Regions from separate parts of the Homo sapiens genome. Here region 2 is linked to region 1. The links come from fine-mapping of genetic effects on gene expression. A gene starts in region 1. The other region holds a variant in brackets. All regions are shown on one strand. Distances are between the middles of the regions. Region 1 holds the start of ELP5 (elongator acetyltransferase complex subunit 5). Region 2 holds the start of PITPNM3 (PITPNM family member 3).

Region 1 (4,375 bases):
ATCAAATATTTCCTGTGTGTGGCACCTAAAGATTATCACCCTGGGTGAAAAAAGAGAAAGCAGAGGACGTGAGATTTGGTCCTGCCTGTAGAACAGCTTAAAGAAAGTCAAGAATTAAGTCAAGAAGTAACAACTACAGAAAAAACAGCTCAGGAAAGGGAGACTGGCATAGGTAGCAGAACTTTTTTTCCCAGATATCTCTTTTCTATCTTCTCTTGTGGAGTGCCCGCTTTTTTTTTTTTTTTTGAGACAGAGTTTCGCTCGTTGCCCAGGCTGGAGTGCAATGGCGTGATCTCCGCTCACTGCAACCTCTGCCTCCTGGGTTCAAGCGATTCTCCTGCCTCAGCCTCCTGAGTAGCTGGAATTACAGGCATGTGCCACCATGCCCAGGTAATTTTTTGTATTTTTAGTAGAGATGGGGTTTCTCCATGTTGGTCAGGCTGGTCTCGAACTCCAGACCTCAGGTGATCCACCCGCCTCAGCCTCCCAAAGTGCTGGGATTACAGGCGTGAGCCACCGCGCCCAGCCATGGAATGCCATCTGAACATACACCACCGCCTCTATCACAACAATGGCTGATGCAAAATTGGAGGCTCAACAGATAAGATGTAAACTACTATTATCATCCACTGAGTTGCCGGGACTAGGAAGTAGAAAGCATCCTACTAATGGTTCTTAATGTCTCCTGATCAGGCATGCCGCTGGGTTTAGGAACTTCCTTATCTCAATACTTTCTTCTCCCCCATATTAGTCAATAAATCCTGGAAATTCTACCCACTAAAGTCCTTTACATGTGTTCTAAACTTTCCATCTCTACTGCCACTGCCTTAAACCAGGCCTCTATCACTTCCTACCATTATTCCCTAAAATTCATTAGGTCAGGAACAGGTCTCACTCACTGCCGTCTCCAGTATCTTGCACAGCACCTGGTTGATAGTTGGTGCTCGGTACATATGTACCTTAAAGAGTGAAGCCGGATTAACGGATTACTGCAATACCCTTCCCACATGTTCTCCCTATTTCCAGGCTATTTCTCTCTCGACTTCTATGATCTTTGCTTTGGACTCCCCAAATACTCATCACTCCTCTTATTAATTCTTGCCTCCTGAAAGATCCATATCCAATTCTTCAATGAATATTTAAGGAACTGCTACTACATACCAGGTTCTGCGCTTGTTGTAAAGAAATTTCCTTAGCATTATAGGTCTCAAATTTAATCAAATCTCTTCCAACTGGTACTTACCGATTGTTGATATCAGAGTCAAAACCTTCACGAAACTCTTCCTCGCTCACTTCACAGCCCAGGATATGCACTTGCTCCCCACTAAGGCAGAGATGAGAAGGGATTGTCAAAGAGTGGGCACAGGTGCCCTATCCAGGGTAGGCCGGGGAGACACTGTGGGATACTCACCACAGTGCAGATTTCTTGACAAGCGCCTTCAAGAGACTGCGCCCCTCCCACTCCACGGAATCTGCAGAGCGAGGGACGGATAAAGGGTATGAGAGCGCTGGGATTACCGCCTTCGCGAACCCGTCGCGATTTCCACACCTAGCCTGTGACCCCTGGCCCTTCCTGCCCACTTCCGTCCCCTCAGCCAGGCCCGAACCGCACCCCCCGCCCCGCCACCGTGCCTCTGGCTCTCACCCCGAAGCAGCACCAGGCCGCCCAAGGCCAACAGCGAGTCCAACATCTCCAACTCGCGTCCGGTCCCTGCTCTGGCGCCCTCTGATGGCGTCATGACCCAGTGTCCTTCCTCCTCGGGGTGAAACGGGCCGAGCACTCGGGCGTCCTCCCACCATTAAGACCTAACATAGTCTGGAATGAGAGGTGATTATGTTCAATATTCCCAGGGGGGCGCTCACGCGGAGGGCGCCCCTCCCCGAGCCCTGGCGCACAGTCGTACGGACAACGACCCCGTCTACATTTTCACTGTGACCGGGGCGGGAAGAGCAGTTGGGGCAGTTGTCAGTGGGAGGGGGAGGAGGACCCACAAGCCCCCCGCGAGGGCCCTAAGCGCGGGCCAAGTGACGTCACTCTCCCCGCCCACGCAGTTTGAGGCGGGGCCTGCTTCGCCTCAGGCCCCGCCCCGCGGCCACCTTCTGCGCGTGCGCAATACTGCAGCCTCGCTTGGAGTGCTTTTGGCTTTCCTTATACCTACCCGCCATAGACCGCGCAGGAGGAACTTAGTCCCGGTGAAGCGAATACACGTCACCACCGGAAGTAGTGTCAAAGGGGAAGAGGAGGGGGAAAGACAGGAAGAGGGAGTCCTTTGGACGGTAAAATGGCGCCTGTCAGAGTGGGAAACCCAGCTGCAGAGGCTGCAGCCCCGGTCCCCAGCGGCTAAAGGACCCCCGAGCTCGGGGAGGGGGAGGCCGCTCCGGCCCAGCGCTCTGCGCCCTCCGGCTCCCCCTCCCCCTCCTTCCCTGCTCCTTCGCTCTGCAGGCCCGTTCTCCGCTGCCGCGGCCCTTTGCGCGCCGCTGCCCCCGCCCTCCCCGTTCCTGCGAGCAGCCCCCTAGCGCGCCTGCGCAGCGGGCCACTCTCTGCTTTCCCCCCCTCCCCTTCCCTTTTCCCTTCCTCCCTTTTCCCTAGCCCCCTCCCCCACTGCCCCCTCCCCCAATTATCCTTCCCCTTCCCTCCAGGTCTCGGAGGACCCCATCCTAGCCCTACCTGTCTCGGCCCGCAACCTCCCCGAAGCCGTCGGTGCCACTCCCAGCCCATGTGGGCCCCCGCGGGCTGCCCACGCCTGTCCCCCAGCTCCCCGTTCCGCTGGGCTTTACCCTCGCCAGGGGTGGCTTTCTGAGCCGCCCGCTCCGTGCCCCTCTCTGCAGCCTCTCCTGCCACTCGGGGCCCCCGTTCCCCCTCCCGGCGGCGGGGGGCTGCCCCCGGGGGGCTGGCGGAGCTGGGCCGCGGGGGCCCCGGGGCCGGCGGTGCCGGGGTCATCGGGATGATGCGGACGCAGTGTCTGCTGGGGCTGCGCACGTTCGTGGCCTTCGCCGCCAAGCTCTGGAGCTTCTTCATTTACCTTCTGCGGAGGCAGATCCGCACGGTGAGCCAGGGTGGGCGCTGGCGGTGTTGGGGACGTCTGGCGGTGTTGGGGACATCTGTCCGTGGTGCTCAGGGGTTTTCGGAGTGTCGGGCCTCTGTTTGGGCCTAGGAAGGGAATCCTGGCTGGGGCTTTTCTCGCCAGAGAATTGGGCACCCTAAGCGGGGCGAGGTGGGAGACCCTTGTAATAGAACCTTGCCCTTGGGGGTTTTGATGGGGCTAGATGGGACAGGATTTGGCAACTCTTGGGGGCTAAGGTGGTGGGTGGGGCGCTCTTTAAGAAAGCTGGAGTTGTTGCTAAAGAAACCAAGAGGCGGGGAACACCTGTTTGATGACAGCCGGATCTGTGGATGTGGGCTTGGGAAAGACCCTATTTGGAACCTCGGTGTGTGTTTGGTCCTATAACAAGGAAGAGACAGACTTGTGTGTCAAGGGTGGAGGTGGGTGGGAGGGCATACGTTACAAACAAGGACGGGAACTTGGGAAAGCCCTGGGTGTGAAGGAGAAACGCCTGCGGTTCCCATTAAGAGAATTCCTCCAAAAAGGCTGTGAAAATTTATTTCATAGTGTGAGTGTAGGTATCTGGATTTATTGAAGACTAAAGCAGATGCTTTTACGATGGGCCTCTTTAATTGTGGGAGGGAGTTCAAGGTGGGTGCTGTGCCCACCATTGAAGTTTGGGTGTCCCTGTCAGAGGACAGCGCTGGGCAGTTGTAGGGCTTGAAAATGAGGACGTTTGCTTCTCCAGGAGAGCCTAGCATTCTGAGGGAAACTGTCCGGATGGACCCAAGCATCTCTGGGTCCCCTCTCCCTTAGCTTTTCTCCAAGGTCAGAGGTCCTTCAGCTAACAGCACTTTAAATGAATGTGCTCTTGTGGTCTCACCACCACCAGGGAGAATCCTCGGAAGGAGTCTGGGGAGAATTTAGTAAGCGGAGACACAGGTTCTGGGTCTGTACTGTGGTCTGTACCCCTTAGCATACCTCAATACAATTTGAAAGAATAAACCCAGGTTGGGGTGACCTGGGGTCCAGAGAATTTCCAGAAAGCCCTCAGTGGTAGTGGTGGTTGATTTAACTGATTTGGGAGAATGGGTCTGGCCTTGGGTTCATTCTGTCCTTTACCAGTCTGCTTCCACTTCCTGATTTAGGGCGCGAACAGTACAGGATGGTTGTGGCTGTAGGCAGCAGCGCTATTCCCCCGAGACAAGAGCTAGGAGCCAAGAAAAATTTAGGGTCAGAGATGCTGGGATATGTGTGGGGCTATCTCCTGGGGTTTTCTTTTCTTTTCTGAGACAGTCTCGCTTTGTCGCCCAGGCTGGAGTGCAGTGGTG
Region 2 (4,375 bases), 700 kb after region 1:
TCTTCTGACGCAGGAAGTTAACTCCCACCAGTTAATCTAATGGCCTTGAGTTTTGATGTGTTTGCTCTGTCAGAAGGCTGGGCTGGAACTTCCTTGGCAGCTGGTAACAGTCAGTGCCTTCAGGGGCTGCCTTAGGGGCGGACAGAGGCTGGGGTGAAGGTTTAAAGAGGGGAACCATGGATCTGGGCCTCTGAGTCGTGGTTTTCAGGGGACAGATCTGGCTTACTGTCTTCCCATCTGAGAAATGGGGTGTGGAGTGGTCTGGAGAGATGAGTTCTGAAACTCCCATCAACTTGGCACCTCCCCTTAACCGCTCCACCCAGGCCCTTCTGGGTGACTAGTTTAGGGTTTGTGAGGACTAAGTGGTGGGAGGGGAAGGGGTCTGGGTGCCCACCCAGGGAGCATCTGTCAGCAGGTGTTTGCCTGTGTTTGTGTGTACGAGTGTGCCTACACACACCCATGCATGCATCCCTAAGCACACACAAGCACACACACATACACCCCATGCACACATACCCAGGCACACACACAAACACAACGTGAAGCTGTGCCCAGAAGCAGGAGGGCCCTTGATGCCCTCTGGTCACTGCTGCTACTGTGAGCCAGGGCTGGGGAGGAGCTCAGGCCCAGGCGTGTCCCCTCTGTGGCAGGCGCATTGCTTCTTCTGCAGCCAGCGTTCTGTCTCCTGCGTGACCACTCACACCTACAGACCAGGTGGCCAAGCCTGGACATTGTCCAGGCTATCAGGCCTCTGAAACACCTCAGGGAAGGGTGAGGCCAGTGAGGCCCAGTAGACAAAGCACAGGGGCCTGAAATTGATCCTCCATGACCACAAGCACCGAACTTTCTTAGCCCCCACTTCGTTATGTGTATGCTGAGGATAACGCAATGTAGCTGAGAGAGTACATGAGGGTAAATACCGCCTGTTCAATCAATAGTCCTTGTTATTCTCATCCCCAGTCCCATTCTCATAGTGGGGAAAGGCTGCAGGGTCCATTCCTGCTCTCCCAGCTGGTGACCAATGGCAGGTGCTGGTGAACAGCGTTGGATTCAGGAGCCCAGAGCTTCTGAAATTCTACATCTGTTGGAGTTGGTGCTGTCATCTGGCTCTGGGATCCAGAGCTCTTGGGACTCATGGGTTTCCTGGGAGGTGAGCTCTGGCAAACGTGGATGGTTGTTCTCCCTGGGTGAATCCATACTAGGGAGTTTGGGTAGAAGGCCTTGGGAAGCCCTGGTTTTGTTGGGTGAGGTGTCGGAAGGCAGAGCAGAACTCATGGATGGGACATGCGGGTTGTAGATTTCAGCTCAAACGAGTAAGAACATTCTTAAGGCCAGCACTAGCCAAAAAAAAAAAAAAAAAATTAATAAAAGGAAGAACTCTCACTTAAGATACTGAGCTTCCTGTCCTTGGAGGTAACCAACCAGGAGCTGGAGGACTGCTTAGCAGGAATCTTGTGAATGGAGTCAAAGCCCCAGAGAAGGCACTGGACTGAGAGCCCCCATCTAACCCCATGTGTGCCCTGTTTCCATAGAGGAGCTTGCAGGACCCTGGAGCCTGGACCATGGATGGAATTCTCCAGTTGACCTTTTCCCTGTTAAGTGGAGTGGGACAGGGTGGGTTGGGTGCCTGGCTCTACAGATGGTAACTGGGCTTCAGCCTTACCAATTCCTGGGGGAGGCAGGGCACCCTCTCAGTGGAGGGTTGTTACCTCTCAGGCACCGCCAAATACAATTGGCCATCTCCTGCTCTCTTTTGGGGCTGGACTGTGGATCCCTGCTGCCCCTAAACAGAAGTCATAACCCATATCTCCCCGGACCACAAGGCCTGTCCACTAGAATCTCTGCATCCCGATTTAGGAAGTGGAAGGCGGGTACTGCTCACCACCAGGCCGCTGGGGTCCACAAAGCCTGCTCCAGCCTAGAACCCCAGGTGGATGTGCAAGTGTTTTACTTATCCCTTGAGGGTTAAAATCACGGGAATCCTTTCTCTTTTGAGGTTAGGTCAGACGCCATAAATGATCCAGAACCCCTGGAGCGGGGGCTGATGGAGGGGGTCCCTCTCTTGTCTCTGATCCCAGAGCGACTTTCCTCTTGACTTCGTGGGGGCCTCCCTTGGATCCCTGTCCTCCTTCCTCTCTCCGCTCCCTCTGTCCGTCTCTCCCGGAGCCGGAGCCGGGCTCTGGGTCTCTGGTCTCCTCTGAATTTCTCTCTCTCTCCCTCCACCTCGGCGTTCTGGCCCTAGGAGCGTCTCTCTCCAGCGCTGTCTAATAGTCTGTGCGCCCCTCTCCCAGTCCAGGGCCCCGTCTCTGGCCCGCAGTGTCTCGGGCTGTCTCCGCGTCTCTGAGCCCCTGGGCTGCCGCCCCTCGCGCGCTGCGGTGGCCGCGCGGGCCGGAGCGGAGCGGGCTGGAGCGCGGCGGCCACGGCCCGGGGCGGGGGTGCGGGCCCGCGGGGGCGGCGTTGGGCGCCTTCCTTCGTCAGTCCCTCCCCGGCGGCGCGGGGGGTGGGGTGGGGGGGGG[GC/C]GCGGCCGCCGCTCGGCGCCTTTAAGGGAGCGGGAGGGAGCGGCGAGGCGGCGGCGGCTGCGGTGGCGGCAGCCGAGGCGAGCGGGGCGGGGGCGCGGGCGCGGCGCTCGGAGTCCGTTCGGGGCCGGAGGCGGTCGGGGCCGGGCCCGGGAAGCGCGAGGAGCGCGCGTAGCGCCGCCGGAGCCCGCCGCCCGGGACATGGCCAAGGCGGGCCGTGCAGGTGAGGGCGGGCGCGGGGAGGGCAGGGCCGGGGCCCGGGGGAGGGACTCGCGCGTCTAGAGGAGGGGCCGCCGGCCCAGGTGAACCCCTCGCGCAGGTGGGCGGAGGTCCCGGGAGGGCGTAGGGGGCGGTAGCGGGGCTGGACCTCCCGCGCGTGGAGAGGGGGCTCCGCGCGCCCCCCGTCCTTCCTGCGCCCCCGGTCACCTCGGGGGACACCGCGTCCCCTTCTCCACGGCCCCGCCGGAAAGGGCCAGGTCTGCGGCGCCCCGGGCCAGTCCCGCCGTTGGGAGCCCTCTGCACCCCGCGGAGGCCCCGGGCAGACCCGGGCTTCGCCACCGAAGGGGATGTCCCGCGGCCGCCGCTTCGTCCCACACCCCAACGCAAACCGGGACGCGCCCCCTGCTCCTGCAGCTCTCTCCATCCAGGACGCCACAACCCCCCGCCCCAGCCCCCGTCACCAGCTCAGTCCAGAGACCCAGATTCCTTCTCGGGAAGGAGGGGAGCCCCGTGCCGCGCCGGCTGCTGGCCGCCCCGCCCCCTCCCCCATCGACCCTGGGACGCAAAGCCTCAGCTGCGGAGGCCTCTTCTGGGGTCCCGTGGGCTCTGCCCTCCCCCAGGCTCAGACGGTGTAGCCTGTGGTTTGAGGGAGCGGGCATTAGTCATTCGTTCATTCATCCAGCCCGACGTTCATTCACTAGCATCTGCTCTGTGCCAGACCCTGAGCTGGGCACCGGGGCTCAGGCGGACTCAGCCCCCCTGCTGCGCCCATGCTGGGGAGACCCAGGCCCGTGACTCATCGGGCACATTCTGGGCCCGATGGTGCCTTGGGAGGCGGGTGGAGGACAGCTGTGCCCACAGGGCCGGCCATACAGTAGGCGGCAGCAAGCCTGGTCTCGGCAGTGCCTCTTGTGAGGCTGGCGTGTGAGAATCTACCATGAACTCACACCCAACCCGTGACGTTGGCTGGTGCCATGCCGTCCCCCAGGACCGGGCGCGACAGTGAAGGAATGGGTGTGAATACCATCGGGCTGTGTGTCAATCCACCCCCAAGCCCGAAAGCTGCCCGGGACCCTGGGCTGCGGACCCGTCTCCCTGTGCAGGCACTGAGCCTGTAAGATTTAGGTGCCTGAGAATGCACTCCCGTTCTGTCCCCAAGGAGTCCTGTCGGGGTGGGGCCGGTTGTGTGAGGCACAGCCAGTATGGAACACAGCTAAACAGCCTTCTCACTCCCCTCCCTTTTCCCCTCCTGAGGGAGGCACTGTGAGATGACACCAAGGAAGCTGAAAAAGGCTTCTTGCCTCCCTCTTTCCTCCACCGTGCCTGGGTCCTCACCCACCCCGACTCCTTAAAATGGCCTGTGGCAGGGCGTGTGTCCCATCTGCTGCCCTACCCTGTGTGTGTGTGAGTGTGTGTGTGCACTGGGACGCCTTGAGCACAGGTCACCTGCCAGGGCACTGTCATCGCAACGGCAGTGAACATTTGCTGCTTGTTCTATGTATTAGGCAGAGTGCTAAGCTCTTTACTGTACCGTGATCCTGGGAGGGAGGAAATGCGACTCTCCCACTTTTAAAACATCTAGAAACAGATACTCAGAGAAATAGCAGCCTCAAGGTGGCTTAGAGGGTCTGGGCAGAGCCTG

The links. PIP is the estimated chance that this variant, and not a neighbour inherited with it, causes the effect.
Region 2: its variant is fine-mapped to the expression of ELP5 in hepatocyte-like cells (PhLiPS, PIP 0.95).

The regions. Positions count from the first base shown.
Region 1 is chr17:7,249,867-7,254,241 of GRCh38, reverse strand. ELP5 (elongator acetyltransferase complex subunit 5) reads right to left here and starts at 2,027. Exons shown (of 8, transcript NM_203414.3): 1 at 1,646-2,027; 2 at 1,412-1,472; 3 at 1,244-1,324. The coding sequence starts at 1,691. It overlaps CTDNEP1 (CTD nuclear envelope phosphatase 1), which reads left to right and starts at 2,508. Exons shown (of 8, transcript NM_001143775.2): 1 at 2,508-3,047. The coding sequence starts at 2,946. RefSeq lists silencers at 1,371-1,610, 2,381-2,590, 2,661-2,780 and enhancers at 1,641-1,860, 1,729-2,317, 2,318-2,905.
Region 2 is chr17:6,554,747-6,559,121 of GRCh38, reverse strand. PITPNM3 (PITPNM family member 3) reads left to right here and starts at 2,567. Exons shown (of 20, transcript NM_031220.4): 1 at 2,567-2,737. The coding sequence starts at 2,716. RefSeq lists an enhancer at 3,656-4,302. The variant GC/C (reference allele first, on the strand shown) is at 2,517.